Linked DNA regions of Homo sapiens: region 2 is linked to region 1. The links come from fine-mapping of genetic effects on gene expression. A gene starts in region 1. The other region holds a variant in brackets. All regions are shown on one strand. Distances are from middle to middle. Region 1 holds the start of IPO11 (importin 11). Region 2 overlaps IPO11 (importin 11).

What was found.
Region 2: its variant is fine-mapped to the expression of IPO11 in whole blood (TOPMed, PIP above 0.99).

Annotation. Positions count from the first base shown.
Region 1 is chr5:62,406,078-62,422,964 of GRCh38, reverse strand. It overlaps IPO11 (importin 11), which reads right to left and starts at 10,202. Exons shown (of 30, transcript NM_016338.5): 1 at 10,036-10,202. RefSeq lists a silencer at 9,712-9,761 and an enhancer at 10,092-10,281.
Region 2 is chr5:62,597,651-62,614,537 of GRCh38, reverse strand. IPO11 (importin 11) reads right to left here. Exons shown (of 30, transcript NM_016338.5): 29 at 12,690-12,774. IPO11-LRRC70 (IPO11-LRRC70 readthrough) reads right to left here. Exons shown (of 4, transcript NR_073584.1): 3 at 12,690-12,774. Among named protein-coding and RNA genes, the nearest start is that of LRRC70, 27 kb to the right of the region's middle. RefSeq lists a silencer at 4,394-4,512. The variant G/A (reference allele first, on the strand shown) is at 8,761.

The sequences.
Region 1 (16,887 bases):
TATTTATTAATTCAATAAATATATACTGAACACCTGCAAATGCCAGACACTAGTCTAGGCACTTGAGATACATCGATTAACTAAAAAGACAAAAAAAAATCCAAGACTTGTGAAGCATATTTTATAGTGGGGAGACAAATAAATGGGAAACAAATAATAAATGGGTGAAGTATAAAGTATGTAAGAAGACAATAGACAGGGGAGGCAGACCTGTGAGAGGAAGACCTGTCCGAAAAACTTGAGTATTTCTGTCTCACCGGGAGTTTTTAGTAAAATGGCACTGATAAACTGCAATAAGTCTCTTGCCTGTTTGGTATATACAAGAGTTCCCCGTGACTAATCTCCCCCTAATAAGAAAAGTTATACATTATCCTAAACAATATTGACACCCCCTACCTGATCAGTGCCCAGCTGTGAGGTACCAACTACTGTCAACCATCACCCTCTGGTGTCTCCTTAGCTGAAAAACAAAAATACATGTCTGTACAAAACCCACTAAGGAACAGCAGTTATGCTTATTGCTTTTAAAGGTCCTTCTCTGGCTGGGCAGTGGCTCACACCTGTAATCCCAGCACTTTTGGAGGCCGAGGCAGGCAGATCACCTGAGGTCAGGAGTTTGAGACCAGCCTGGCCAACATGGTGAAACCCCATTTCTACTAAAAACACAAAAATTAGCTGAGCATGGTGGTGGGCACCTATAATCCCAGCTACTAGGGAGGCTGAGGCAGGAGAACTGCTTGAACCCAGGAGGTGGAGGTTGCAGTGAGCCAAGATGGTGTCACTGCACTCCAGCCTGGGCAACAAGCAAGATTCCATCTCAAAAAATAAATAAATAAAGTTCCTTCTTGGATATGAAAAAAAATAGGAAGGAAAAGCTATAAAACTGATTTTGATTAAGGCACTGAATAGAGATAACAACACAGCCTAGATTAAATTTAACAGACTATAATTTATAACTAGCAGTTAGGCAAAACTTTTTGCTGAGTGTAAGAGATCATCAGTCCTCTCTCCAAATATAGACATCTTCGATTGGTAGTTTCCATTTACTGGTTGAAGACATCACTGTCTATAAAGCTGTATCTTATAAGAATCTCATTCTTGCTATAAAGAGCTCAGCCTGTCATTGTATTTATAAAAACCCATTTGTTCAAACATGCATGTGCTGTATGCCAAGTAATAATCCCACAGTTAATCACTATTCTACATTTTATCATTAAAATAATTTTTCTCTCAGTTGTGAGTCCATATAAGTTAACAAGTAAATAAATATAATTTTCCTATCACCTTGGAGCCACCCATATCAGTTCTCTACACAGTTTAAGTATTTTGTTTTACTGACCAAGACACTGTGGCCAAAAGATAAGGAGATAAACTGACTTCTCTAAGGTCACAGGCTCATTAGTGACATTTCTAGAACTTTAAATGTAAGTCTCCTGTCCCCACCCAGTACTCCCGAAAGATTAAACACTTTTACTTTTGTTCAGTGCTGTCCATTAATATCTCAAGTGAAATTAACTGGGAATTTTTAGCTTTAGACTTGAGAAAGAACAAAAATACATCAAGTTCACAGCCTATCTGCCTAATGAATTATACTACATCAGAACTGAAGACTGAAATTGATGGAGTCATTGAAGATACCCTACACAAGGTTAACAAGGTGAAGATTAAGAGAAGAAATGTTATTAATACATAACTAAAACAAAGGTGTATTATACAGAATATACAAGGAACCCTTGTGAATCAACAAGACAAATATATAAGAAAAGTGAACAAAGGGTGTAAGCAGAAAATATATAGAAAAGAAGAGCTAAATGTTTAATTAATATCAGAAGAGATGCTATCTCACTGGTTATCAGGGATTTAAAATCCAAACAGTGAAAAACTACTTTATGATCAGACTAGCAAAAATTACAAAGTCCAAAAATATTCAATGCTGGCAAGAATGCATGGAAACAGAAACTCTTAAACACTGCTACTGGGAATATCTATTAATACAACTTTGGAGAGCTATCTAGCTGTCTCTAATGAAATTGAGTATATATTTTGTGTATTCTATGACCAGGACACACAGAGGGTCACACACCACATAAAAATGGCGGCTCACGCCTGTAATCCAACACTTTGGAAGGCTGAGGCGGGTGGATCACTTAGAGTGCAGGAGTTCAAGACCAGCCTGGGCAACATGGAGAAACCCCATCACTACTAAAAAAACAAAAAGTTAGCTGGGCATGGTGGGGCACACCTGTAGTCCCAGCTACTCAGGAGGCTGAGATGGGAGAATCACCTGAGCCCAGGAGGTCAAGGCTGCAGTGAGCCACGATCGTGCCACTGCACTCCAGCCTGGGTGACAGAGTGAGACCCTGTCTCAAAAAAAAAAAAAAAAAGTTTCAGTCAGATATGGACCACATATATACGACAGTGATCCCGTAAGATTTTAATGGAGCTTTAAAATTCCTATCACATAGTGACATCATAGCCATCCTAAGTCGTAGTAAATCACATTACTCACACGTTAGTGGTGATGCTGGTGTAAACTAACCTACTGCACTGCCATTTGTATAAAAGCAGAGCACATACAATTAGGTACAGTACATAACACTTGAAAGTGATAATAAGCAACTATGTTACTGGTTTATGCATTTACTACATTATACTTTTTTTTTTTTTTTTTTTGAGACGGAGCTTCACTCTTGTTGCCCAGGCTGGAGTGCAGTGGTACGATCTTGGCTCACTGAAACCTCCATCGCCCGGGTTCAAGCAATTCTCCTGCCTCAGCCTCCCAAGTAGCTGGGATTACAGGTGTGTGCCACCACGCCTGGCTAATTTTTGTATTTTTTTAGTAGAAACAGGGTATCACCATGTTGGCCAGGCTGGTCTCAATCTCCTGACCCCGTGATCCACCCGCCTTGGCCTCCCGAAGTGCTAAGATTACAGGCGTGAGCCACCACGCCCAGCCTACTTTTTTTAAGAGTTACGATCTCTGTCACCTGAGGTAGAGAGCAATGCCGGCATCATAATTCACTACAACGTTGAACTCTTGGGCTCAAGCAGTCATTCCACCTCAGCCTCCTGAATAGTTGAGACTTGGGACTACAGGGATGAGCCATCATGCCATGCTAATTTTTTTACTTTTTGTAGAGATGGGGTCTGGCTATGTTGCCCTGGCTGATTTCAAACCCCAGACCTCAAGCAATCCTCCCACCTCAGCTTCCCTAAACCCTGGGATTACAGAAGTGAGCCACCAAGCCCCACTACTATACTTCTTATCATAATTTTACAATGTACTACTCCTATTAAAAAAAAAAGTTAACTGTAAAACAGCCTCAGACAGGTCCTTCAGGAGATAATTCAGAAGAAGTCATTGCTATCATAGAAGATGACAGCTCCATGAATGTTATTGCCCCCGAAGACCTTCCAGTGAGACAAGATGTGGAGGTGGAAGACAGAGATATTGATGATCCTGACCTTGTGTGTACCTGAGTTAATGTGTGTGTTTGCGTCTGTTTTAAACAACGTAGAACTACACAATGTATTTGTGTTTTAAGCTAAGTGTTACTGCAACAGAGACAAAAAGTTTATAAACTAAAAGTTACAATAAGCTAAGATTATTGAAGAAAAAAATTTCTTAATAAATTTATTTTAGCCTAAGTGTACAATAATGCCCTAGGCCTTCACTTTCACTCACCACTCACTCACTGATTCATCCAAACCAATTTCCAGTCCTCCAAGCTCCATTCGAGGTAAGTGCCCTGTACAGATGTACCATTTTTTACTTCTACACTGTATTTTTACAGTACCTTTCTAAGTTTAGACATGTTTAAACACACAAATACTTACCATTTTGTGACAACTGCTTACAGTATTCAGTGCAGTAACATGCTGTACAGGCTTATAGCCTAGATACAATAAGCTATATACCACATAGCCCAAGTGTATAATAGGCTGTACCATCTAGGTTTGTTCATATGATGTTCATAGAACAACAAAATTGCCTAACGACCCATTTCTCAGGATGTATCCCAGCCTTAAGCAACTCGTGACTGTATCTTCTATGACCCAGCAGTTTCACACCTGGTGCTATAATCACAGAAACCCCTGCACAGGCATATAAGAATAAGGAGACAAAGGACTAGGTTGTCTGCATGACCTAGTTATCTATATTAACAGAGACTTGGAGACAATACGTGAACATCTTTAGTGAAATATGTATAAAATGTATCTTATCCCTTGTACAATTTGTTCCCTCTGGCTGGAAAGCTCTGGTCTCTAGATAAAAGCATGTCTTGCTCTTTGACAGCATTCCATTCTGCTCAAGTTGTCCTCTATTTAAAGAGGTCTCCACTAACTGCCAATCTAAAAGGGCTCACTCCTCAACCAAGAATCTCTATGTTCCCGATATCCTTAATTTTTCTGCATAATGCTATTAACTATATGAATGCTGTTCATAGCACTATACTGTTAATAGCTTACTGTACTGGAAACACTTACATTTTAAACTATATGATATGTGTTGGCTGGGTGCAGTGGCTCATGCCTGTAATCCCAATACTTTAGAAGGCCGAGGCAGGTGGATCACCTGAGGTCAGGAGTTTGAGATCAGCCTGACCAACATACTCTACTAAAAATACAAAATTAGCCAGGCATGGTGGCGCACGTCTGTAATCCCAGCTACTCAGGAGGCTGAGGCAGAAGAATCACTTGAACCCAGAAGGCGGAGGTCGCAGTGAGCCGAGATGGTGCCACTGCACTCCAGCTTGGTCAATAAGAGTGAAACTCTCTCTCAAAGAAAAAAAAAAAAAAACTAGGCAGGCGTGGGCATGGTAGTGCATGCCTGTAATCCCAGCTACTCGGAAAGCTGCAGCAGGAGAATCACTCGAACTTGGGAGGCAGAGGTTGCGGTGAGACGAGATTGCACCATTGCACTTTAGCCTGGGCTACGAGTGAAATTCTGTCTCAGAAATAAATAAATAAATAATGGCTAGTTGGAGAGTTGGAAATAAAATAATTAGATAGTTGGAGAGTTGGAGGAGGGGTTACACATAAGTTAATAAGGGGAAAGAATTAAGATTTTGGGCTTTTCCAACTGATTGGTGCCTGCATGGCTCATAGGAGGAAAACAATGTCAGGAAGGTTGAAATACACAACGTTTTTGACATGAATGTCAAGTATTTTAAGACAACTACATATGTCAGCGTTGAAGAGAGACCTGTGCTAAAAAGCCAGATTTGGGAGTCATCAAAATAGAGGCAATAGTTGAAGTCACAAATGAGACCATTCATGAAGAGTGTGCATTGAAGTCCTTATTTCCTAAACTACGTAGTTTGGATTTTTATCTGAAGGTTTTCAGAAGAGAGCAGGGTAGTGCCTCAGAGTCAAACATCTAAAGTGGTCAGAGAAAAGAGAAAAATAACCAACAAAAGACTGGCTAAAACCTAAGAAGGAAATAAGGAAAATATGGTGTCCCAGAAGTATAAGAAGAAAATTTCAAGAACGAACAAGTAGTTAAAATGGCAAATGATTAAACAGATTCCATTAGATTTAGCAACAAAGATATCAATGGTGATCACCACTACATCAAATTCAGTGACTGCTATGGACTGTCAGCCTTCAAAATACCAAAAAAAAAAAAAAAAAAAAAAAAAATTAACCAATAAGGAGGTGAAGAAAATGAATATAGAGAATTCTTTCAAGAAACTTAAAGGAAATAAGCTGGGCATGGTGGCACACACAAGTAGTACCAGCTACTCATGAGATTGAAGTGGCAGGATCACTTGAGCCCTGAAGTTTGAGGCCAGCCTAGGTAACAAGAGACCTTGTCTCTTAAAAAAAGGAGAAAAAAAAAAACTAAGAAAAATAATTATAGATAAAGCTGAAGAGGAATCTAAGAATCTAAGGTAAGGAGCGTATATTTCAGATAAGACTTGATTTGAGGCCAGGCACGGTGGCTCACCCATATAATTCCAATACACTTCAGGAGGCCAAGGCCAGTGGATCGCTTGAACCCAGGAGTTTGAGACAAGCCTGGGCAATGTGGCAAAACCCCATCTCTACAAAAAAAAATTCAAAAATTAGCCAAGCATGGTGGCCTGCGCCTCACCTGTGGTCCCAGCCACCAGAGAGGCTGAGGTGGAGGGATCGCTTGAGCCTGGGAGGCAGAAGTTGCAGTGAGCCAAGATAGCACCACTGCACTCAAGCCTGAGAAACAGAGTGAGTACTCTGTCTCAAAAAAAAAAAATAAAAAAAAAAAAAGATAATAAGAGACTTGGGTATGCTTAAATCCTTGTTAAGTTAGTACTAGTTGAAAAAGGAGTAACTGAATGTTATGGATTGAACTGTGTTCCTTAAAAATTCATGTTGAAGCCCTAACCCCCGAACCCTCAGTATTTGGAGATAAAGTTTTTAAGGTGATTAAGATAAGATGAGGTTGTTAGGGTAAGGCCCTAAACCAATATAACTGATGCCATTATAAGAAAAAGAAACAGCAGGCCAGTGCAGTGGCTCACGCCTGTAATCCCAGCACTTTGGGAGGCTGAGGCGGGCAGATCACCTGAGGTCAGGAGTTTGAGACCAGCCTGGACAACATGGTGAAACCCGTCTCTACTAAAAATATAAAAATTAGCCGGGCGTGGTGGTGAGCGCCTGTAATCCCAACTACTCAGGAGGCTGAGGCAGGAGAATCGCTTGAACCGGGAAGGCGGAGGTTGCAGTGACCTGAGAGCGGGCCACTGCACTCCAGCCTGGGAGACAAGAGCGAGGCTCCGTCTCAAAAAAAAAAAAAAAAAGAAAAGAAAAAAAAAGAAAACAGAAAGATACAGCAGAGGTGCATGTACACACAGGATGACCACGAGAAAAGGCAGCAAGAAGGTGGCCATCTGCAAGCCAAGGATGGAGGTCTTACAGGAAACCAATCTTATCTGCACCTTGATCTTAGACTTCCACTCTCCAGAACTGTGAGAAAAAAAATTCTCTTGTTTAAGCTACCCAATATAAGGTATTTTGTTGTGGCGGCCCTAGCAAACACATGAAGGAAATATTGCCCGTAAGGAGAAAAAACTCAGAATATCATTAGAGATGGACAGATAGAGGTCTTCATGTTTGCAGGTGAAACAGAACAGAAAGCAATGAAGTTCCCACTCAATGTATTTCATTTCCTCTATGAAGCAGAAGGGAACTTTATCCAGTAAAGAGTAAAGAGGGGGCCGGGCGTGGTGGCTCAAGCCTGTAATCCCAGCACTTTGGGAGGCTGAGGCAGGGGGATCACCTGAGGTCGAGAGTTCGAGACCAGCCTGACAAACATGGAGAAACCCCGTCTCTACTAAAAATACAAAATTAGCTGGGCATGGCGGTGCATGCCGGTAATCCCAGCTACTCAGGAGGCTGAGGCAGGAGAATCACTTGAACCCAGGAGGCGGAGGTTGCAGTGAATTGAGATCGCGCCACTGCACTCCAGCCTGGGCAAAAAGAGCAGAACTCCATCTCAAAAAAAAAAAAAAAAAAAAAGTAAAGACGGGGCCGGGCTCACTCCTGTAATCCCAGCACTTTGGGAGGCCAAGGTGGGTGGAGTTCAGGGAGGTCAGGAGTTCAAGACCAGTCTGGCCAAAATGGTGAAACCCTGTCTACTAAAAATACAAAAATTAGCCAGGCTTGGTGGCAGGCACCTGTAATCCTAGCTACTCTGGAGGCTGAGGCAGGAGAACCGCTTGAACCCGGGAGGCGGAAGATGCAGTGAGCAGAGATCACGCCACTGCACTCCAGCCTAGGTGACAGTGAGACCCCGCCTCAAAAAAAATAAAGAGGAAAGGTGGTGGGTTAATAGCCACCATGATAAACAGGAGCAGTTAGCAGGGACACACAGGATTGTTAGGCTGCCTGTACAGTACCCAATAGACGTTTGTTATTGAATGAACACCTAATTGTCATTCATGAATTTTAGTCCGTTTTTAATATAACAAGCTCTGACAGTAACCAGCAAAAGAAAAGCACTGGAATGAGTTGGAATCTGGGTTATAAATCTAGGTATGTGTGACCTTATGCAAGGCACTTACCTTTCTGGGCCTCAGTTTCATCAGACTGGATAATCAGCATAAGATCACCTCAGATTAAAATAAATGATGCTATAAATTTTTATACCGGTTTGTGCATTACCTCAGTGTTCTTCAACTGTTACCAACCAAAGTAGTGCATCTCAAGATTTATTGAACATTCCTTTCATCTAGATAACTTGTTAAAATTGCAGATTTTGATTCAGCAGCTCTGGATTGAGCCTGAGATCATGCATTTCTAATAAACTCCCAGGTGATGCTATATACCACAATTTGAGTAGCAAGGGTAAAGAACACTGATGCAACTTAAGCTCTACAAAGCTTATAACTGTGGACTTATCTGTAATAAGTCTGATAGTCAGCAAACCAAACACACTACAGACTCACACCAGCACTAAATGTGTTTTGCCATTCCTTAAACGCTCTGAAATTAACAGTCCCTATTTGAAGCTGATAAAGAAAGGAAAAAATATTACCATCAATAACACTAAATTAGAAGTGAGGTTACATACATACACACACACAGGTACAAATATATAACACAAAGGTCAAAATCCAAATAATCAAACATTACCTTACCCAAAATTTGAATATTTTTATTGCTGAGAAAAAAAAATTTTGTTTCTGGAAAAATCTTCAGTGTATTTTAATAGCCACATGCCTACAAGGATCATGCTGCATTCTGGTTTGATTCCAAATGCAAATATATTCAAACATCACAAAATCTAAAAATTGTTCTATTAATGATCAGATAATCTTTACATATTTGTTTAAAACCTCTAACATTACCACAGCCAAATGTGTTTGTGGTGAAAATTCTCTTTGGCCTTAGAAGTTCAACTAGGGCGGAGACCACCCTCCTACCCTGAGACTATAATATATGGCCACAAGCCACTACTATAATTAATTGTTTCTACTATACCCTGTGCTAGGTTACTGCAGAAACAGAGAAAATACCAGTCCCATCATAACCAAAAGGGAAAATGTTTCTACTTTCACCGAAATTTTCCTCAGTGATGAAAGATGTAATATGTGTCATGCAATGGATGTCTCCTATAGAAGAGTCACCCTGCCCTTAATCTGAAGCTCCTCTACTGAACAGAGAAGTTTGAAATAACATGAAAATGGAGGAAGAAAATTCCTATCCCAGGAGGGGGAAAAGCATTATGGCTACAAACTATTCTTCCTTCTGAAGAATAACCGAAATCTGAAGGGCACTACCGCGCTACAACTGAGCTCGTTTAAATTATGGAGGGGAGGAGGTATGTCAACTGCAACCTTGGCACTAGTAGGTAATTTACCAGTCCTTGCTATTTAGTCAAATCACTTTCAGATAGTACTTCTCTCATTCACCAACATGTCACAAAATAATAAAGAAAAAATGACACACGTAATAAGCAAAAGTAGTTTTGCTGAATCACAAATACCCCCAAATATAAATCTACAGGAGTCGCTGAGCTTGAGAATTGGCGGCCATACCTCTCCATGAAGCTCCTCTCTATAAACGGACAACTACCTTCACTTTTTCATTAAAAGCATGTAAGGGTCTAATGTTTAAAGCTATCACACTATTGCTATTAGCAACAAGGTCGCGTGCGCAGTAACAATGCACAACGGTCTTATACTCGAGATAACCACTTTATCTCAAAATTTGCACCACCTATCCCCCAAGGGCAAATGCATCACCCAGGTCCGCAACCGCGGTCACGATGGGTACACTCGCCTCTGCTCAGCCTAGCATACGGTCCCTCCCACCCCGCACCCTGATTGCTCCACTACCATGCTGCCCACTCCCGGGCTGCCTCGGCCAGCCCCCAGTTCCCCGGGTTCCTAAGGTTGCGCAAACAGCCAAGTCTGCAGGCCGCCCTTGCCTCGCTACCGTTATCCCTCATCTCCTGGTAGCCCCACTTTCCTCCCGCCTCTCGGGACTCGGGTGCCCAACCCACTCCCTTCCACTCCCGCGCGCTCGGTGGCTCTCGGGCCGGGGCCTCACCGTTTGGTTCGGTCGGGAATTGCCCGGCCCTCCCGCTCCCACTTCCCAACACGAAGTGGCGTCGGTTGGTCCCTCTCCCCACGCTGCCAGACCCCACGCCGCCGCCTACTGATGCCGAAAGCGGCTTCTAGGAACACGCCATGTTTGGCGTCGCAGCTCCAAACGACGCGGACGCGCGAAAACTACGTCACAGGAGACCAGCGCGCATGCGACCGGCAGAGAGAGAAGGCGATAGGCGAACGGCGGGAAGGGGAAGGAGGGGCTTTGTCTTTGAACCAAAAGGCGCGGGGTATCCAAATCAGTTGTGTGCGCTTGCGCAGTGCGCTTGCGCAGTATAAAGAGCCAGGAGTCCGGACTAGCCGGATCTGTCACCATGGAAACCATAGGTCTGGTTTCTCCGACTCCCAGGGAGCTCAATTGTTTCCTGCGTTGATTGAAGCTTCAATCAGAACCATTTCACGCTTTATATTCTAGATATCAATAGCGGATCCGTCACAGCAGAGAAGAGTTATTTAAAGAATCTTACTCCCATCAGTCCACCCTCCCTCCCGCAAATATTTATTTTTTAAGTTACCCAAATTGCTTGGCGCTTACTCCTGAGTAATAGCAAGAGTGGAAAAATGTAAAAGGACATAAATCCAGTTCTGCTTGCCTCTGCTAAAAGCTAGCATAGTCACCTAAATTTTCTTATCCTTAAAAAGAGAACTTACTCAGGCGCAGTGGCGCGCGCCTGTAGTCCCAGCTACTCCAGATATGGAGGCAGGAGGATCACTTGAGCCCAGGAATTCGAAGCCAACCTGGGACATATAGAGAGTTCACACACACACACACACACACACACACACACCCATTTCAAAAATAATAAGGGGTGGGCACAGTAGCTCACACCTGTAATCCCGGCACTTTGGGAGGCTGAGGCGGCCGGACCACGAAGTCCGAAGTTCGAGACCAGCCTGGCCAACATGATGAAACCCTGTCTCTACTAAAAATACAGTAATTAGCCTGGCGCGGTGGCGGGCGCCTGTAATCCCAGCTACTCAGGAGGCTGAGGCAGGGGAATCGCTTGAACCCTGGAGGCAGAGGTTGCAGTGAGCCAAGATTGCTCCACTGCACTCCAGCCTGGGCAACAGAGCGAGACTCCGTCTCAAAATAAATAAACAAATAAATAAATAAATAAATAAATAGACTCCGTCTCAAAATAAATAAATTAATTAAAAATACACACCAACTATATATTTCTTAAAAATAATAATAGTAAGGCCAGGCACAGTGGCTCACGCCTGTAATCCCAGCACTTTGGGAGGCCGAGGCGGGCAGATCACCTTAGGTCAGGAGTTCGAGACCAGCTTGACCAACAAGGAGAAACCCCATCTCTACTAAAAATATAAAAAATTAGCTGGGCATGATGGTGCACCCCTGTAATCCCAGCTACTCGGGAGGCTGAGGTAGGAGAATCGCTTGAACCCTGGGGGCAAAGGTTGCAGTGAGGCGAGATCGCGCCATTGCACTCCAGCCTGGGCAATAAGAGCAAAACTCCGTCTCAAAATAATAATAATAATAGTAAAAGAAGTTGTAAGGAAATAGAGTGTTCAAAAATATTAATAATAGAAAACCTTTATTGCTAATTTAGAATATTCCAGGTACAGTTTTAAGATCTTTATGGGAATTATCTATTTTAATCCTCAGAACAACCCTTATGAGGTAGGTATTTTCTTTATGTCCACTTCACAGATGAAGAAACTGAAGCACAGAGAAGTCAAGTAGCCCACCTAACGTCAAACAGCTAGTAAAAGGCCATGTTAGGATTTGAACCAAGCTCTGCATTCCAAGAATGTCGATCACACAAGGGCTGTTTTTTAAAGTAAAAAGATAAAATTACCTAAACAACCACCAATGACACAAATGATTAAATCACAATACATCCATACATAATAAAATACAAATTGACCATTTAAAATTATGTTGAGGTCGGGCACAGTGGCTCACACCTGTAATCACAGCACTTTGGGAGACCAAGACGGACAGGTCACCTGAGGTCAGGAGTTCAAGACCAGCTTGGCCAACATGGTGAAACCCTGTCTCTACTGAAACTACAAAAATTAGCCTGGCGTGGTGGCATGCGCTTGTAATCCCAGCTACTCAGGAGACTGAGACAGAAGAATCGCTTGAGGCCGGGAGGCGGAGGTTGCAGTGAGCCGAGTTCGCACCACTGCACTCCAGCCTAAGCGACAGAGCGAGACTCCATCTCAAGAAAAAATAAATAGGCCGGGCGCAGTGTCTCATGCCTGTAATTCCAGCACTTTGGGAGGCCGGGGCATGTGGATTGCTGGAGGTCAGGAGAGCGAGACCAGCCTGGCCAACATGGTGAAACCCTATCTCTACTAAAAATACAGAAATTTAGCTGGGCTTTGTGGCAGGCACCTGTAATCCCAGCTACTCGGGAGGCTGAGGCAGGAGAATTGCTGGAACCCAGGAGGCAGAGGTTGCAGTGAGCCGAGATCGTGCCACTGCACTCCAGCCTGGGCGGCAGAGGGAGACTCTGTCTCAAAAAAATATATATTAATTAATTAATTAAACAAAATAAAATTATCTTGAAGTGTATTTGTTGACATGTTTACACATGCACAATGCATTGTGAAAAAAGAGGGTTGCAAAACATTATGTTCAGAATGTCCCACTTTTGGAAATAAATAAATGCCAAAATGCTAGGAGGGTTTATCACTAGTTGGATGGGTATTGTGACCATGCTTTATTTTCTTTTTGCTTAACTGTATCTTCTGATTTTATTGAAAGATAGTACTTCTCAGGCTTGGAGAGGTGGCTCACACCTGTAATCCCAGCACTTTGGGAGGCTGAGGCAGGCGGATCACCTGAGGTCGGGAGTTCGAGGCCAGCCTGATCAACATGGAGAAACTCCGTCTCTACCCAAAATACAAAAATTAGCTGGGCGTGGTGGCACATGCCTGTAATCCTAGCTGCTCGGAAGGCTGAGGCAGGAGAATGGTTTGAACCCGGGAGGCAGAGGTTGCAGTGAGCCGAGACTGCACCATTGCACTCCAGCCTGGGGGCAACAGAGCAAAACTCTGTCTCAAAAAAAAATAAAAAACAAAGATAGTACTTCTCAAATTTTAAGTGTTCATAGAATCACATAGGGATCTTGTTAAAATACAGTTCATGATTCATTTAGTCTGAGGTGAGGCTCGAGGTTCTCCATTTCTAAACAAATTTAGATCTATGTTTCCTGGTAGGTAGAATAAAAGATGTCCATGTCCTAATCCCCAAAACCTGTGAATATGTTACTTTACAGAGCAAAAGGGATTTTGCCAATGTGATTAAATTATCCAGGATAATCTTACTATGGGAAGATTATGCTGGATTATCCTCTAGGTCCAATGTAATCAGAGGGGTCTTTATAAGAGGGACGCTGGAGTGTCCAAGACAAAGAAAATATGCCAGTATAATAGATGTCAGAGGGATGCCAGGGCCATGAGCCAAGGAATGCAGAAAGCCTATAGAAGCTGGAAAAGTCATGGAAACTGATTCTCTTCTACAGCCTCCAGAAGAAACTCAGACATGAAAACAATTTTAGACTTCTAACCTCCAGAACTCTAAATTAATAAATGTATCTTGTTTTAAGCCACTAATTAGGTTTGTGGTACTTTGCTGAAGCAGCAATAGAATATATGCTCAAAAGTTATAGGCTCTCTAATTTGCTACCCTTCATTTATTATTTTAACTTGCATAAAATTGAGTCTTGGATAACTCTACATTATAATACAGCTCATTAGATGCTTATAAATTAACATAATTCCTAGATTCATTTTTGTTTATAATAAACTTGAAACAAGTTTATTATTTCCATAAGGACTGATTATGTAAATCAGTCCTGGGAGGCAGAGGTTGCAGTGAGCAGAGATTGTGCCACTGCACTCCAGCCTGGGCAACAGAGCAAGACTCCGTCTCAAAAAATAAAAAAAGAAAATAATTTGTCAATTTATATTCAAAGACTAAAATGTTCACGCAGTTTGAGTAAATAATTCCATGCCTGGAAATCTATACTAGAGAACCAATTCAAAGTACTGAAAATATTTTCCAGGTATAAACTAAAATGTCTATGGCTCTATTTTTATAAGAACAATGGAATAGGCAGGATTTAGTAAACCCTTACGCATTCACAAGGTGAAAGTTTCTGTAGCAGTTTTCTTTCTTTCTTTTTTTTTTTTTTGAGACGGAGTCTCGCTCTGTCGCCCAGGCTGGAGTGCAGTGGCCCGATCTCAGCTCACTGCAAGCTCCGCCTTCCGGGTTCACGCCGTTCTGCTGATCTCGTGATCCGCCCCGCCTCGGCCTCCCAAAGTGCTGGGATTACAGGCGTGAGCCACCGCGCCCGGCCAACAGTTTTCAATATTAATTATTCAGAGTGTGTAATAACTTGGAAAAGGGCTTTTTTTTTCTTTTTTGCTTTTAGAGACAGGGTCTCTGGCTATGTTGCTCTGGCTGGTCTCAAACTCCTGGGCTCAAGTGTTCCTCCCATCTCAGTCTCCTTAATGAAGCTGGGATTAGGAGCATGCACCACTTTATAAAATAAAATATTTTTATTTATTTATACTATAAAATATTGTTTAAAATAAAAAATACATAAGTATAAATATACAATATAAAAATAGATTCTAGCCAGGTGTGGTAGCTCACACCTCTGATCTCAGCACTTCTGTAGGCTGAGGTGGGAGGATCACTTAAGGTCAAGAGTTCAAGATCAACCTAGGCAAAATGCCATCTCTACAAAAAATACTAAGATAAGCTGGGCATGGTAGCATGAACCTGTGGTCTCAGCTACTCTGGAGGCTGAGGTGGGAGGATCGCTTGAGGCCTGGACAGGGAGGTTGCAGTGAGCCATGATTGTGCCACTGCACTCCAGCCTAGGCAACAGAGCAGGACCCTATCTCAAAAATAAATAAATAGTAAAAATAAAAATAGACTCTAACCCACAAATAGAATTCTATGTACCCTAATAATTTGGTTTTTATTGTATTTGGAAACCTTCTAAAAGCTTTATTTTGCAACATGATATACATTATTTTATGATGTTAAAATAATTAATAGAGAGGCCATTAGACTGAGGCTGCTCCAGCACCCTGGGTTCCTACAGAAGCAAACCAAAACCCAACTCAGTGTATTTTATTTGCCATGCTTCCACATTCACCCTATAAAAGCCTTTCTTTGGTGCGCCTTTAACAGAGTCCCAAACTGATTCATGAATCACTGTCTGCTCAAATAAACATTTTAAGATTTTACTGTGCCTTAGTTTCTCTTTTAACAATGGTAATGATGTGGAAACATTTATCTGACAAATGTTTTTGAGAGGTATCAATTATGTAATATTCACTGACAAGGTTTACACCTATGCTGGTATTAAACAGAGACCATAATCATCTTCTTTAAATAATTGTATTAATCTAACATAGTCTTTATGATTATCTAAAAATATTTAGATCATTCTTTTTTGTTTGTTTGTTTTTGTTTTTGAGACAGGGTCTCACTCTGTTGCCCAGACTGGAGTGCAGTGGCGCAATCTCAGCTCACCGCAACCTCTGCCTCCTGCCTCAGCCTCCAGAGTAGCTGGGATTACAGGTGCACACCACCATACCCAGCTAATGTTTGTATTTTTAGTAGAGACAGGGTTTCACTATGTTGACCAGGCTGGTTTCGAACTCCTGACCTCAAATGATCCACCCGCCTTGGCCTCCCAAAGTGCTGGGATTATAGGCGTGAGTCACCATGCCCAGCCACATATTTAGATCATTCTAAAGAATACATTCATAGAAGAATCTTGTTTATAGTATTCAGGATTCCTTCCTTCCTTCCTTCCTTCCTTCCTTCCTTCCTTCCTTCCTTCCTTCCTTCCTTCCTTCTTCCTTTCCTTCCTTCCTTCTTCCTTTCCTTCCTTCGCTCCCTCCCTCCCTCTTTTCTTTCTTTCTTTGAGACGGAGTCTTATTCTGTCACCTAGGCTGGAGTGCAGTGGAGCAAACTCAACTCACTGCAACGTCTGCCTCACTGCAACCCAGCCTGGGCCACTATTTTAAAAATATAACATTTGAAGCCAGGCACGGTAACTCATGCCTGTAATCCCTGCACTTTGGGAGGGCAAGGCGGGCAGACCACTTGAGGCCAGTTCAAGACCAGCATGGGCAACATGGTGAAAACCCATCTCTACTAAAAATACAAAAAAAAAAAAAAAAATTAGCCAGCGTGGTGGTGGTGCACGCCTGCAATCCCAGCTACTTGAGAGGCTGAGGCATGAGAATAGCTTGAATCTGGGAGGCTGAGGTTGCAGTGAGCCAAGATCATGGCACTGCACTGCAGCCTGGGTGACAGAGCAAGGCTCTATCTTAAAATATATATATATATATATATTTATATTTATATATGTTTATATTTATATTTAAATATATATATTTATATTATATATATGAGTTGTGTCTTTAACAGCAAACAAAAGTTAGCCAGGGGAAGGTCGAGAATGCAAAAGGAAGAGCACTCACAAAGCCGAGGTATAAAGATGTTTAAGGAAGAAAAAGGAACTTGATAACGTTGGGAAGTAAATAAGTAAGGTAAATAGGAACTTAATTTGAAAGGCCTACAATGCTATTCTAGGGAGCAATAGTGGTCATTCATTGATGAATCAAAAGAACAATTTTGCCTTCTCTGCTCTTGTCTCCAGGCTGTGGTTACACAGCAGTACACATTGGAGATACTGGGCTCCACATTTAGCTGGAAGACATGCCATGTCTTCTTGAGTTCCCTCTAATCTTCCTCTCCCATTGCGCATAAAGGATCTTCAAACCTTCTCCGCAC
Region 2 (16,887 bases), 190 kb before region 1:
GAGGGGGGGCGGGTCAGGTAACTCTTCAGCATTTCAGTTCTACGTACTGCAGAACTTAGCAACAGCCTTGGCTCCCACCCATTACTGCCAGCAGCACTTCCCTGTCCTGTAATGACAATGCTGGCGGGAAGGGGCGAGGAGCAGGGCAAAATAGTACCCAGTTGAGAACCACTATTAAACAAAGATCCTTCCTCCTCTTTGTCTGTATGTAAAAGTTACCTCAACTTAATTCACACAATGACATAAAGCCATTTTGAATAAGGTTAAGAAACTCATCAGGTTTCTTGCAGCTCAGTAAGACAATTGTGGGGATGAAATCAACTCTTGTTAAGTTCAAAGAAAGTCATAAATAATATCTGAATAGTTTCTATACCAAAAGCTTTCCTTTTCTATGTGTTTTATTTTAAAGTACTTTATTCCAAGGAGACACCTCCAGAAAATCAGATGATTAATATGATGTTCACACACAATGCACATGCGAAAAAGAAAATAAAGATAAAACTGCACCACAGCTGTTTTAAAGTCTGTCATAGGTAATTTCACCTTGCAAGGGTTCATGCAAAAATTAATTAAAGTGGCTAGGATATACACAGGGAAGACTTGAAGGCTTGGGGTGACTCAGGCCCTTCGGGGGCTGGAATCATCTTAAGGGTCACTGATTCATGAGTTTAGTAGTTAATGCTGGCTGTCAACTGGGATCTCAGATGGGGAAAATGAGGCCTACTTCTTATGGATTTATGGGCTTCCTTATAGTATGGTGGCTGGTTTCCAAGTACAAGTGTCCTTAGAGAACCAGGTGGAAGCTCTATCTTATAATCGAGACTTGGGAAATCATAAACTATCAGCAAATTTGCCCAGTTTCAAAGGGAAGGAATATAGACCCAACCTGCCAATAAGGAAGAATGTCAAAATCACATTTTTAAGAAGAGCATGTGTGCCAGGCGTGGTGGCTCACACCTGTAATCCCAGTACTTTGGGAGGCTGAGGCGGGCCGATTGCCTGAGCTTGGGAGTTCAAGACGAGCCTGGGCAACATGGCAAAAGTTCTTCTCTACAAAAAATATGAAAATTAGCCAGGTGTGGTGGTGTGCACCTGTAGTCCCTGCTACTTGGAGGGCTGAGGTGGGAGGATGGCTTGAGCCCATCAGATAGAGGTTGCAGTGAGCCAGATCACACTACTGCACTCCAAACTGGGTGAGAAAATAAGATTCTGCCTCAAAAAAAAAAAAAAAAAAAAAAAGAAGAGCATGTGGAATAGGAGATATTATTATGGCTATTCTTGGGAAATAAAATCTACCATGGGACTCTTATTTAAAATCAGATAATCAAACAAAATGTCCAGTAAAAAAATGTGTGAGAGAGGGAAATATGAACAAGCCATTCATCAAACAAAAAAATATCAATGAGCTATAAACATCTAAAAAATTCTTAGTCTCACTCATAATTAAGAAAAAGTACATTAAACAACAAAACACTGCTTTCTACTTATCCCATTGATCAGACTGTAGGATGACTCATGAACCACTCCTGAGCACATAAATTGGCAATTTGGTATAATCTATCACTATTTCAAAAACACATATCCTTCAGCCCAGCATATCTACTTCTAAGAATTTTTCCTACAGACTTACAAACTTTTAGAAGTACATAAAGACAGCACTTGATGTTGTTTACTGAAGCGCTGCTTATAATAACTGAAAAATGGAAACAATCTCAATGTCTTTCAAGAGTAGTTTCTCATTTTGGCCTCAAGGCCCTTAATATTTTTACATTTAAAAGTTATTGGTGATCTCAAGAAGTATTTGCTTATATGGGTTAAATCTACCAATATTTACTGGATCAGAAATTAGAAAATTCAAAAATACTTATCAACTCACTTTAAAATATCAATAAATCCATTACATGTTAATATAATTTTTATAAATAACTATTTTTCAAAATAAAAATATCTCTTTAGTGAGAAAAATGGCACTGCTTTACATACTTGGAAATCTAATGTGTGGCTTAAATGAAAGCCGGATTCTCGTATCTATTTCTGCATTCAATCTGTTGCATTATGTGTTTTGGTTAAAGTAAAGAAAATCCAGTCTTTCTCAGATATGCAGCTGGAAAATGGAGTAGTATTTAACAGCCTTTGCTGACCATTTTGGATATTCTTCTTTGAAACTACACTGAAACTCACAAATAGTAGTTTCTTAAAAGAACTCTGAAACCATATCAATAGACCCCCATTCTCTGTCACATTAAAATCCGTTGGCCTGTCTTACTCTCTGAATAAATCTTTACCTTTGAATGATTTTTTTAACATGTACTCACAGATCGTTTGGAAAATACTGGTTCACTGAATTATGCAGTTCTTCATTTAAGAAAAATCAAGCACCAGAACAGAATGTAACGTAATTTTAACATTTAAAATACATATAGATCATATATTTTATGTATGTATATAAAATATTTGGAAGGACTTATCGCATAATGTTAGTAAAGGTTACCTAGGGGAATGTTATTTCACAACATATCATTCATTTTGTGGTTTTTAGTATAGGTTACTTTTATAATGAAAAATCAATTTCTTCAAAATGGCAACTTCCACATACAGAACAATTCTTCAAAAAGTTTACTTAATTTTTCTTCCCTTGAAAGACAAGTCCCTTATATTAAAAGACAGTAAGTACTACAATTTATTGAGAAAAAGAAGCAGAAGAGAAAAACAGGAAATAGGAAAAACTGCCATGAAGGCAGTCTAATGTACCCTGGCATGTTACCTAAGTTACTAAAAAAGTTCTCCCAAATGAGACCACATTCTTCATTTACAAACCTGAAGATTTTATTTACCTTGAGCCAATACCATGTTGCCAACGTTTCCAAGTGAACAGGGGCAAAGTTACTGAATTCATCACAATTAAGGTTTTTAGTAACAATTCAAGTAAATAAGGGAGATACAGTGAGGCCGTCTGCTATGCAATACTCAAGAACAATACTGACGTCAGCAGGCAATTAATTTGAAATCTCAACTAAAAAATAACCATCACTATCATCACTTTATTTAGTTCCAAAGGCATTTTCAAGGGAATTTTCTTTTCCAGTGTCTTTGATTACTATTATGTAGCCTACTGTGAAGGATCTTAACCTCTATAATCTGAAACTATTTTTTGATTAACATTTTAGCTCTATCACAGGAAGAACTGCTACCTTAGGATGCCTGGTTATCAATTTGTATCTTTATTGCATCTCAGTTGGATTATTTCAATTCATTATTTCCTATCTTCTTGGATTGTTTTAATGTCACTTTCAACTCTGCACTTTTTAGGACCTGAATTACCCATGACCACAGTGTATTTCTAATACTTGAGATAAGTTTAACATTGAGCTTGTGGGCCTCATTTATAAGGAAAGCTATGTTTGGTTTACAATTTTGAAATATTTATAGGTAAAGTTATATGTCCTACAATGGCTTTTTGTATGTTTCAGTGTATCATCTAGAAATGAAAATAAGGATGTATCAACAGCAGTACAACAGTCAGTTAATCAAACTTAGAGAAGCAGGTAGAATGTGAGCAAAGCATAGATAAAAACAAGTACATCTTTCCATTTTAAGAAACTGGCCTGGTAATAAGTTAATGATATCTAACACTTTAAAAATACTATGTATGTACTGTTGATCAAAATACCCTAGAAGATAGGTTCTCAGAGGAAGTACTGATTATAAAGATCAATGGTTTTCACATGGTAAGCATTAAAAAATGTATGTGGAATGAATACAGAAGAAAAAAAAAGATTCATTTTGAAGATGCTAGTTCTATTGCCATTATATATTTAGTTGTGCAATGGTAGCAGGTAGGATTATTTGATTACTTGATCATTTGATTATTATCACTTGATTATTTGATTACTTAACTAAGAGTAAACAGAGAAATGCTTTTAATATTGTTAATTTTGTTAAGTCTTAAAAGAATGGAGTGTGAGGATTTGCACACATTTTTATAAACTGGGCCTTATGATAACCAAATTTGGTGCAAATATATGTGATATGTGATAACCAACACGTAAGTGACAACAAACCAGTGACAACCAAAAGACAGACACATGGATAAAAATTAATAGTAAAATTGCCTTCTCAATGCAAAATGAGAAGCAATAATTTATATTCACTATCTTTCAAACTGCTTTTCAATATATAGCTGGCTTTTTCCTATTATCTATCTACAAACTTTGTAAAGATCATCTTGTGCCAAAGGATAAAGAAAAAAACAAAATCATTTCAGTAATTTTTGAAGGAAAAAAGAAATAATCAGATGGCAAGCAATAAAGTAACAAATATGAGTACCTCTATGTTAACCAGGTTAACATAGCATTCAAGCCTATGCTTTTATTCACTCAAACAGTATGATAAAATATATCCAGTAATATTACAAGTACCTCATCTATGGCTGCCACTGTGGTTTGGTGGGCCAGAGGCAGCCGGTGGATGCCAACAACTGGTTGTTGCCTCACCCATGACTGCTGTTATTCCCTCCTGAGAGCTAGGCAGTGCTTCCCTAAATGGGACTGCTACAATTACAGTATCGCCAACAGCCACATCCAATGTGGTCCCAGGAGCAGGCGCCAGAAGCAGACCTACACATGTGACTACGAGTTGACCTCATATTTGCTGTAGCACCTGGACACACAACAGTTAGAACCTCATTTTCAGAAGCAACCCTTGCAGTCACCTGCTGGACATTAGGACACTGAATTATGTGCTCCCAGACCCCTGGGGACACCAACTAACATGGCAGTCTAATGAAGTGCCCATCACCTCACCCAGCATAAACTCAAACCAGGAAGACATTGGTGACTGGGAGGCCTAGGGGCAGGCCCAGCTCTTCTCCAGACTGCTCCACTAGAGATGTCAAAATGACACAATTGTGTTGTCAGCCCTACATCTCAGTTCTGTCTCTACACTGGTCTAGGAGCTCCTTGAGGGCAGGGACTGTGTCTCTCATTCATTCATTGGTCCATCCAGTCACTTATCCATTCAACAAACATTTGCTGAACACCTGATATACATCATACATGCTGTTAGGCACTAGGGAGCTTGTATCAATCATATATTTGGCCTTATTATAGGGATTTGATCTTCCATGACTGTGAGAACCAGTTAAACGTCTAGTCCATGGAAGGCTGTTTCTTTTTGTGCTGGTGATGCTATAGCCTGAAGTCATATGGCCCAAGGGACAGGGCAAAGTGAAACTGCAAGAATGAGTAGAACCTACAAGAACAGATGGGAACACCCTTTAGCCTCTCATCACTTCCAAGTCTTCAACTTTGCTGATGGGGTATCTTCTAAGAGAAGCCAATGCCTTCATTATTAAACTAGGCATGTGCCTGGCTCTAAAGTAAGAGAAGCTAGAGAGGATCTGGCAGGACGTGGAGTTGGTGCAGTTCCAGCTGCTTCCCCACACCAACATGGTGAGCCAGCAGACAAGTGACAACACACATTAGCTGCAACATCACACTCTGCTGACTTTCTGAATAAAAATCATATGAGGCTACACAGTGTATGAGTCCTACTGCATAACATTCCAGAAAAGACAAAACGATGGAGACAGTAAAAACACCAGGGGCTCAGGGGAGGGAGGGATGACTAGGCAGAGCACAGGATTTTGAAGGCAGTGAAACTCTTACGTATGATACTACAATGTTGGATACACATCGTTATACATTTATTAAGACCCATAGAATGTACAATACCAGAGTGAACCCTAACATAAACTATCAATTGTCAGTGATGATGTGTCAATGTAGGGTCATCAGCTGTAACAAATTTAACACTGTGGTACAGGATGTGGACAGTGGGGGAGGTTGCATCTATGTGGGGGACACGGCATATATGGGAATTAAAATGGCAAATGAGAAAACTCAGTGGGGAGAAAAGGGACAAAAGGGCTATTCCAGATGGAGGACTAGCATGTAATAGAGGCAGAAACCATATAACGTGTGGAGACAAGTCATTTGGTTTAGCCAGTGAAGGAGATAGAATGAGAATACAGGACAAAGTTTAAAAGGAGGCAGACTGCAGAGGTCTTTCTTAAAAGAGTGTCAAGGGGTTTAATTCTTATTCTAGTGGTTTTCAACCCTGGTTATATACCAAAAGAACATGTGAAGCTTTTAGAAAATATGTATGCCTGATTCCCAGGCCCCCAGATACAGTAAGTCTGAAATAGAGAGGGTGAGGGCTATAGCTTGTCCAAAGGTAAAAACAGCAAAGAATATGGTACTCTAGGATTTAAGAGGACAAAGTAAGGAAAAATTGTAGGGCTCCAGATAAAGTTCAAAATAGATCTACCAAAAGAAAAGGAATGATTAGTAAGGAAGAAGAGACTGTGATGAGAGAGAAATGTTGGAGTTCAAGGTTTGGGGTCAAGATGTGGCATGAGAGGCCAGGAGTGGTGGCTCATGCCTGTAATCCCAGCACTTTGGGAGGCCAAGGCGGGTGGATCACTTGAGGTCAGGAGTTCAGGAACAGCCTGGCCAACATGGTGAAACCCCGTCTCTAACCTAAAAATACAAAAATTATCCAGCAGTGGTGGTGCACACCTGTAATCCCAGCTACTTGGGAGGCTGAAGCAGGAGAATCGCTTGAACCCGGGAGGCAGAGGTTGCAGTGAGCTGAGATAGCAGGTTGCAGTGAGCTGAGATAGCACCACTGCACTCCAGCCTGGGTGACAGAGTAAGACTCTCCAAAAAAAAAAAAAAGAGATGTGGCATGATACTAGAAGTGATAAATGTTAACTGCGCAAGTTGAGAAAAGAAAAAAGGTCTCTCAACTCATAACCTGGGTGGACTGCATGTAAGCTGAATACTAAAAAGTATTTTCAACAATGCTATAATTTATCTTGATTACTGAATGCTATAAGGTAAGGATTCTCAAAGGGCAGTTCTGAAGCCACCAATATGATGATGAATTATTCTCATATTATTTGCAAAAGGAAAATGTATTTTATGCATACATTAAAAATTACTGATATTTAATTAAGAACAACACAGTACCTTATCAGTACCAATACAATTCTATCTTTATAGTAGTTCTGCTGAGGTTTTCTAGAAGCAAATGGGAGCAGGCAAAAGAATCAATCTACTGGTTCTCAGTGGTCAAAATCATCCAGAGAGAGTTTAAAAACTCCCACCCCAAGCCACTACCACAGGGTGCCCTGTTGACATTATATTTGGAATAAAGATTTCCAGAAAACCTTATGAAATAGTTTCAACTCATAACAGTGTCACTTTCCTTTTGATGATGTATTCTAAATTCTAACAAGTACAAGTCTAAAGAAAGCTTCTAGATCCAAAAGTTAGACAAAATGAAAGTTTTCAGAGTTGATGAGTAAAGGAGGGGAAAGCAGGGAGGGGAAAATGAGGGAGATATCTCTGTGCTCTAAGAGAAAAATGTTAGCTATGTGTAGGCTCTGATTGCAGGACAATTCCATCCTCACAGTGCAGCACTGTTCTCCATCCTTGAGCCAGTACAGTATTTGGCAAGAGCAGTACAGAAACAATAATCACTCTAAGACAGTACAAAAGCCATGCTCAGGATTTGTTATATTTGGCATGAAACTTAGGATGTACTTATAAATTCATCAAATAAAATGCAACTCAACCTAACGTATAGTTTACTTACATATGCTGGAGCCTAGGCAAAAGACTATGATGCCAAGCTTGCCAGAGCTGCAGTCTACACATACTTGATTGCATTAAAAAGCTAAGTAAAGCTGCAGATTATGTTTGCCATATATATGTTTCAATTTAAAACACATTCAAATGATAATGCAGCAGATGGGACTACAGGCGCATGCCACCACGCCCGGCTAATTTTTTTGTATTTTTAGTAGAGATGGGGTTTCACTGTGTTAGCCAGGGTGGTCTCGATCTCCTGACTTCGTGATCTGCCTATCTCGGCCTCCCGAAGTGCTGGGATTACAGGCGTGAGCCACCGTACCCGGCCGCACACATTTTAACTTCAGTGGTTTGTAATGAGACATAAGGGTTCTCCTTTTTTTTTTTTTTTTTTTTTTTTTTAAGACAGGGTCTCGTTCTGTTGTCTAGGCTGGAGTACCAGTGGCATGATTTTGGCTCACTGCAACCTCCGTCTCCCATGTTCAAGCAATCCTCCCACCTCAGCCTCCCAAGTAGCTGGGACTACAGATGCACGCCATCATGCCCAGCTAAATTTTTTTTTTTTTTAGAGGCAGGATTCACCTATGTTGCCCAGGCTGGTCTTGAACTCCTAGGCTCAAGCGATTTGCCCACCTCGGCCTCCCAAAGTACTGGGATTACAGGCATAAGCCACCACGCCTGGCCCAACTTTTCTCTTTCTGAATGAGCTCAACTGGTAACAGATTTGCTCATTAGCTTGATTCAGCCATTCTGCAATATACACATATTTTAAAACACCATGTTGTACACCACAGATACATACAGTTTTCATTTGCCCATTTAAAAAAAACCAAGTAATAATATGAAAAAATAGGGAGGGTGGAGTGGCTCACACCTGTAATGCCGGCACTTTGGAAGGCTGACAAGGGAGGATCTCTTGAGCCTAAGAGTTCGAGACCAGCCTAAGCAACAAAGTGGGACCCTGTCTCTACAAAACATGTAAAAATTAGCGTAGTGGCATGCACATGCGGTCTCAGCTACACAGGAAGCTGAGACAGGAAGGTTCTTTGAGCCCAGGAAGTTGAGGCTGAGTAAACCATGTTTGCACCCATTGCACTCCAACCTG[G/A]ACAACAGAGCAAGACTATCCCAAAAAAGTAAATAAAATAATAATAATAATAATAATAATAATACTTTGTTAGCTGGTATCATAGAGTTGTGAGAAAGCATTAAAATGCTCAAAACTAGAATTTGGAAATTACAACTTACAAGTGACTATGAGTCAGATTTCAAAAAATTACAAAAAACTAAAGATGTTAATAAATTAGCTGAAGTCTTTATAGTAAAGGTCATAAAATTATTATTCTACTAATTAGAATATACTGGACAGAAAGGAAACATATATTAAATGAAATGCTTGAGCTGCATGTGCTATTCTAAGTATTATTTCACCGAAATGAAAGGTAGAGAGAGAGGCTGAATGAAAAGGGAGATCAAAAGGCTGGACAGCTTAATAGCTTTCCTGAGTGTAAATTTCATCCTTATTTGAAATAAAATATAGAGAATTCTCAGAAACGTATGGAAAATTATTTGGCACATTTGATATAATATTAATCATCTGCCTTTCTGAACTACAATCACTACTGCTATTCTCTACCAAAGCAGCTGCTGAAACACAGACACCACATTTTATGGACTACTTTAAGACAACAATGACAGTAAGCGAATCAAATTTTCATTTATGTGACCTTGGAACTAAGCAGCTATATTTTTCTTCCTAGCAAATAATTTCATTTTAAAATGAGAAAAGCCTTTGCTAATTTTTTTGTAAAGAATAATTCATAACCATTTGCCAGCAAATGTTTACTCTCCCCCTTTGAAGAAACAACCAAGATATTGCTGGATAGTTCTCAAAAAATGTCTAACGTTATAGACAATACAGTTCAAGATTGACGTAATTACTGAAAAAATACATTAACTTATAATTCTAAGAGATAAGTGAAACAAATTTTCTTTGTTTAAAGTTGTTGGAAAATTAGCATGTATTCATAATTGGATTTATTAAATGTTATACAATACACAATCCCAGCTTCAGTCAAAAACTGCTGTGGTATCCTCAGCATATCTAAGAGCAGTGGGTATCCAAGAGCAAGACCAAGGTACTGGAAATCTTACTAGAGATGATAATATAAATCTATATTAAATATCTACTGTAGTAAGTAACTTAAAATCGGCCACTTAAAAAAATAATGGTTGTTTTATAAACCAATACTACATATAATTAGAATGATAAAGTGGGGGTGTGAGCAGTAGAAAGACAAATGTTAGGCTATACTTAGAGATTATTACTGTAGGTGCAAAAAAAAATACTTTCCACGTATTTAAGATACCACATAGGCCAGGCATGGTGGCTCACACCTGCAATCCCAGCACTTTGGGAGGCCAAGGTGGGCAGATCACCTGAGGTCAGGAGTTCAAGACCAGCTTGGCCAACATGGCAAAACCCCGTGCCCACTAAAAATACAAAAAAATTAGCCAGACATGGTGGCACACACTTGTAGTCCCAGCTACTCGGGAGGCTGAGGTATGGTTACTGCTTGAACCTGGGAGGCGGAGGTTGCAGAGAGCCGAGATCATACCACTGCACTCCAGCCTGGGTGATAGAGCGAGACTCCATTGCAAAACAAAACAAAACAAAACAACCACAAAACAGTTTAATTTCAAAGGAAAAATACTTCTCGAGATATATAGTCATGCATTGCTTAAAGATGAGCATACATTCTGAGAAATGCATTGTTAGGCAAGTTCCTTGTGTAAACATTATGGAGTGTGCTTACACAAACCTAGATGGTACAGCCTACAATACACCTAGGCTACATGGTATAACCTATTGCTCCTAGGCAACAAATCTGTACAGCATGTTACTGTAGCGAATACTGTAGGCAACTGTAACCAAGTAGTATCTGTGTATCTAAACACATCAAAACACATAAAAGGTACAGTAAAAATATGGTATCATTATCTTATCGGACCACTATCATATGCAGTGTGCTGTTGACCGAAATGTTGTGTTGCTGAGCAGTGCATGACTGCGCAGCAGGTCCTTGCTATCATCATTTCATTGTAACTTTGAAAAGGAAAACAAATGGATTTGGGCTGGGTCCACTGTCTGTGTGGAGTTTGCATGTTCTCTCCATGTCTGCGTGACTTTTCTCTGGGTACTCCAGTTTCCTCCCACATCCCAAAGCTGTGCACACTAGGTGAACTGGCGTGTTTAAATTGTTCCCATCTGAGTGTAAGTGTGTGCAAGTGCACCCTGTCAGGAAATGGTGTCCTGTCCAGGACTGGTTCCCGTCTTGCACCCTTAGCTGCTAGGACAGGCTCCAGCCACCCACTACCGTAAAGCAGAATAAGTGGGTTGCAAAAATGAAAGAATGAATGAATACAAATTATTGTCATACAAATGCATATAAATGCTGCTCTATGAAAGCTTTCAGCGAGCTCGCCAGATTTGTTCGTTTTTGAAGTGCATGGCAGTAGGAGGTGCTCCTTACAATTTTCACTTTGCAAACATTTATTCCTTGATTTAACCCACCATCACGACCATCATCACTCACTGATTCACCAAAAACAAGGGAAAATAATTTAACTTGTTTTCATTAATCTTTCTTAAACGTATATATAGCTCACACTTACTTCAATGTTAAATATTAGAAGTGTTTTGGATCTTTATTAAGAAGTTCGGTGATGTTTTTGTGACCAGAAATATGCTGTAGGAGCTTCTTGTTTAGATCAATTAGCCCATGGTACAACTAGGTTCATTATATGTTTTTCTGCTTCAAGTTACAGTTTCCAAGAAACTATCAATGATGTTAAATGAGGACTTATTATATGTACAAACATTGTTTTGGGGGAAGAAAAGTAATGATATTAAGAGTTTTAACAGTAATTTTTCAGTTCGAAGACCCTGGAAATATGCTAATCCAATTTCTGCCGCTTTTCACAGATGAGGCAAACGGATCTACAAAGACAAGGTGACTTGCTCAAGGTCACAAGTAATAGTAAAAAAGGACTAGAATTCAGGTCTTAAGAATCTTTGGATGTTGTCCTTTCCTCTACACTATGTGCTAGGGAGATGATACCTAGCATAAAAGCAAAGTAAAATGAGTTAAATTCAAACAGTTTAAAAGAAGGCTCTCAGAGCAGTGCAATGTTAGCTATAAGCTAAGGATTAGGCCCTTGAGAGCTAACGTGCTGTAATGCGAGGTGTAAATACAATGATCAGATTAAAATGACAGCTAACTCTTACAGAGTAATTACTAGGTATCCATAACCATTTTAATTATTTATTCTATCTATGAGGTAGATACAATTGTTTTCATTTTGCAAATGAGGAAAGAAGGTATAATAAAGTTAGTTAAATGATGAGGCCAGAAGACAAGAAAAGATTCCAAAAGAAAAGGGAAAAAATAGTTTCTTATGTACCTATTTTCTATTTATGGTAAAAATAAATATTTAAACATTCACGATTATATATAATATTAAAAGGCAAGATATTTTAGATATTTCCTTTTTTTTTGTTCTTTTCCCCTTATCAGATTCCTCTGGTGAGAATTAGTGGTTTTTACAACAAGTTAGTGGTTAACTTAAGGGCATTTTTATAAAAGCCTGTGATGCAGATCAGCAAAAGTTCATGTGAAGATCTATAAAATAATAGGGAATGCAAGGAAATTTCAGTACATCTCCTCAAAACAGAAGAATAAACATTTCAACTTAAATAAGGTTTGCAGGTCACACATACCTTCCATAAGTAAAACACTAAATCATCTGCTCTGCACTAAGATAAGCAACAGTTATTTCAGATGAAAAGTTAACCTCAACTTTCTGTACTAGGAATAAAATGTATCTGTTTTAGGGTACACCTTACATTAATTCTGTAACATGGGATAGATGGATAGACATATAGCTGGATGGACAAATAGACCATAGATATTTCTGAACCTACAGAAAATGATAATATATGGTTCTTAATTTTTACAAGCTACTTTTATAACTTACCATCTTTTTCCTCTTATCTTGTTCTGTGGGTGGTTCTTCATCTTCTGTTACTTTTGGTTCCTCAAGATGAGACATCAACATACAGCTATAATAATTTTTTAAAAAACATGTTTTAAATAAAAATGTCTATAATACACTTAAAAATAAGTCCTTAAAATCACTAAGAACATGAATAATTCTATGTTCTTAGTTTTTCACACCAAAATGTGAGAAAAAGACTAGATAATTTAAAATTTAACAAAATTTTTGAATTATGAAAAGATATCTCACTATAAAAAGGGCCACACTAAAACATTTTAGAGCATTTTACTTGGGCATTTCAGTTAGTAATTTATTTATACGCCACTTCTGAAACAATGAACCATCAGCTGACAAAGTAATGCATGTATACACTTTATATGTTATTTAAAAATGACATAAACTCTTAAAATACTTATTTTTCCCCATAATTTTCACATCTACAGAATTTTATACATGCAATAATTTAAATATCACAAACATATTAATTATGTAACAATCTACCTTGTGTTCCAAATGACATGACTGTGCTATGAGGAACTTGTCCTGATAGCACTTGTACCTTCTGGGTAGTTATAAATCATTTTATTTTGAATATCTGCACCATGCTCTTTACTATTAGCAGAGGTAACAGAAACAGTTTCCTGTTCAGTCAACAATGGTTCCAGGGAGACCAGAAATCAACACTGTCTAGTGAATCAAACTGATGGAACAATCCCACTGTTTCCTAACTTGTAACAGGAGAATTCAGTAATTTATCAGCATGATCATAGGTTCCTAACCAATAAACAGTGGCAAAGAAAGTTTGGGTTCTCTTGTTTTGTAGCAAGTACAGGTGAAGGACAATTCCTGACTCAGCTGTGTAAACAGCTTTTAATACAGAACTAACACAGGTGCGGATACCAGAAAACTTGATCAGGCTCATTCTTGCAGTGGAAACAAGTGTCTTTCGTTTCTATTTCCTACCATTAAAAAAGCAATGTTTGGAGTGACTGCCTCTGATCCAGTCAGTGCCCACTGGTGGGATCAAAGAGTAAGAACCTTAGGCTAGAAATCAGAAGTCCTGAAAAACGGCAGGAACTCAATCCCTAACTCACTGCATGGCCTTGACCTGGGGCTGCAATGCTTTTGTCTGCCATGATATAATACAGTGTAGTACAAGTAGCTGGCCAATGGACTCTGACACAAAGTAAGAAAATTACATTACTCTATCAACCCAAAAGCTATTTAATAAAGTGAAGTGTCTTAAAAAGGTCTACATCCCAGTTTGTATTTTAGAACTGAATAATAATATGGGGTTTCTTTACACTAGCCAATTTATGTCTGTTGCAGACCTGAATTCTAACTGCAATGACTATGGATCTGCATGAAAGCATGCTTTATTCTGCATCAAATTCTTCCACTGCATTCCAAAATCTGTTAACTTACTCATATAGTGAATGCTCTCTGTTCTGCCTCCCTAAATTAAAAGATTTATCATATTAAGACTGGGCATGGTGGCATACACCTGTAATCCCAGCACTTTGGGAGGCTGAGGTGGGTGAATCCCCTGAGGTCAGAAGCTCGAGACCAACCTGGACAACATGGTGAAGCCCCTTGTTTACTAAAAGAAAAAATACAAAAACTAGCCAGGCGTGGTGGCAGGCTCCTGTAATCTCAGCTACTTGGCAGGCTGAGATGGGAGAAATTGCCTGAACCCACGAGGTGGAGGTTGCAGTGAGCCAAGATCGTGCCACTGCACTCCAGACTGGGCAACAGAGCAAGATTCTGTCTCCCCCACCCCCAAAAAAAGAAGATTTATCACATTAATATTAGAGTATACTCTGGAGTTACATATATACAGATTTTACTTCTTTCACTGACCAAAAACTAGACAAATAACAGAATACTGAAAAGCCCAAAGCTAAAACTGTCCTGCAGGAAAATTTCCAACTAAAAGTCAAATCTCATTTTGTTGATAAAGATTAAAGATAGACAATCACGCTTTACATAAAAGATACGTAAGAATTAACAGATTTCTAATAAACTGAAGTGTGTAGACTGTGCATGCAGTAATAGTTATACTAATAAAACAGTAAACACAACAGTTTAAAATAGGAATGACTAACGTGAATATAAGTGGCCACTCCTCCATTCTAAACTCAAGGCAGAAATCACCGAATAGATCCAGGCACTCCAGCCTGCTAAATAAGAATCTTTCTCAAGAAGAAACTTCAACCAGCTAAACAGAACCAACAGGTGTTAGCATGAAAAAATGAAACCTTTTAAGTCATTTCTGGGTTTAAAGGTACTTGTAGTAATACTTTCATTTAATCTATATAAACTCTGCCCTAAGTAATTCAGCCATTTTACAGATGAGAAAAGGCTGAATTTACAAACATTCATTGAGCGCTGATAAACAGTATTTTTCCTCAAAATTTTTGTTGTCTAAATGAACTTTTCTCTACTTCAGGGTATCAAATTTGGATGCTTTAAAATTGCCCTTATTCTAGCACCTGAACAGAATAAGTGCAATTGTCTAAAAAAAGCTTAGTTCCACTCTACCTGGAGCCCATCTGTGTGCACAGGAGGGATAGTTGGGGCAAAGGCCAAGTATTCCAGTCATTTTCTTAATGTCCAATATCAGCGATTCTCAAACTTGAGTTTTCAGCTCAACCACTTGAAGGGCTTTGTTAAAGCACAGTTGGGCCCCACTCCCATAGTGTCTAATTCAGTAGAGTTTGATGGAGCCTGAGAATCTGCATGTCTCACAAGTTCCTCTGTGATGGTTTCTCATCATTTCCTCCGTCATGTTGATGCTAATGTTGTTGAGGAAGTTGTGGGGGACACACACTTTGTTAACCCCCATTCTATGTTAGGGCAAACCACCAAAACGCTTCCTACTTATATTTTTTTACCTCTGGCCTCCAATAAATTGTTTAATAATGATTTTTTTTATGGCTATGTAACTGACTTTCAGCTAGGCTGATATAAGAAATGATTTATGGGCCAGGTGCGGTGGGTCACACCTGTAATCCCAGCACTTTGGGAGTCTGTGGCAAGCAGATCACTTGAGGTCAGGAGTTCAAGACCAGCCTGGCCAACATAGTGAAACCCCATTTCTACTAAAAATACAATAATTAGCCAGGCGTGGTGGCACGTGCCTGTAATCCCAGCTACTCGGGAGGCTGAGATGAGAGAACTGCTTGAACCTGGTAGGCAGAGGTTGCAATGAGCCGAGATCACACCACTGCACTCCAGGCTGGGCAACAGGGCAAGACTCCATAAAAAAAAAAAAGAAAGAAAAGAAAGAAAAGAAAGAAAAGAAAGAAAGAAAGAAAGAAAGAAAGAAAGAAAGAGAGAGAGAGAGAGAGAGAGAGAGAGAGAGAGAGAGAGAGAGAGAGAGAGAGAGAGAGAGAGAAAGAAAGAAAGAAAGAAAGAAAGAAAGAAAGAAAGAAAGCAAGCAAGCAAGCAAACAATTTATGGGTCGTTTCACATAAGACAAAACTGACATTGTTCAGTTGGTCTCTGTAGTGGACCTATATAATCAGCCTCTTTCCTAATTGAACCCTGAATCTGTACAGTTATCCTCTTTTCCCATGCTACCACTGTTTCAGAAAAAGCTGATCCCAGCCCCCCAGTGCCAGTAGTTCAATAAGCAATCATGGAGATCCCATTCCCCTGGTCAATGATTACTTTCAGCAGGAGAATGTTTAAGGAATTCTGGCCAATTAGACATAAGAAGACATCTAATGCAATGATTTCCAGAAAAGGATTGCCTTGATCTTAAAAAAGACATAAGGAAGAAGATTACTTATCTGTCAGTGGCATTGTCATGAACTGTAATGCCTAGAACTACTTTTTATCGATGAGGAATGGTAGCCTGCAGATGAGGTTAATATGCTGAGGGGATGGAGTAGAAAAAAACTCAGGCTTTGATGATGTTGCTAAGGCCACAGTCAGCTAATCCTGGAGTCACTTACCTACAGTCATTAGTGTATCAGAAACAACTAATTCTTTATTGTTAAAACGGACAGTCCTTGTATAGTCACTTATATAAATATTAATAAAAAATGCACTTCTGGGCTCAGGGCATGACAACTCAGTGAGAAGAAATATTATGAGTCTCCCTCTCCTGTGTTAAATTACATTTAGCCTAAAGTTTCTTCCTCACACATTTTAAGTTCAGCCTGAAGGTCTC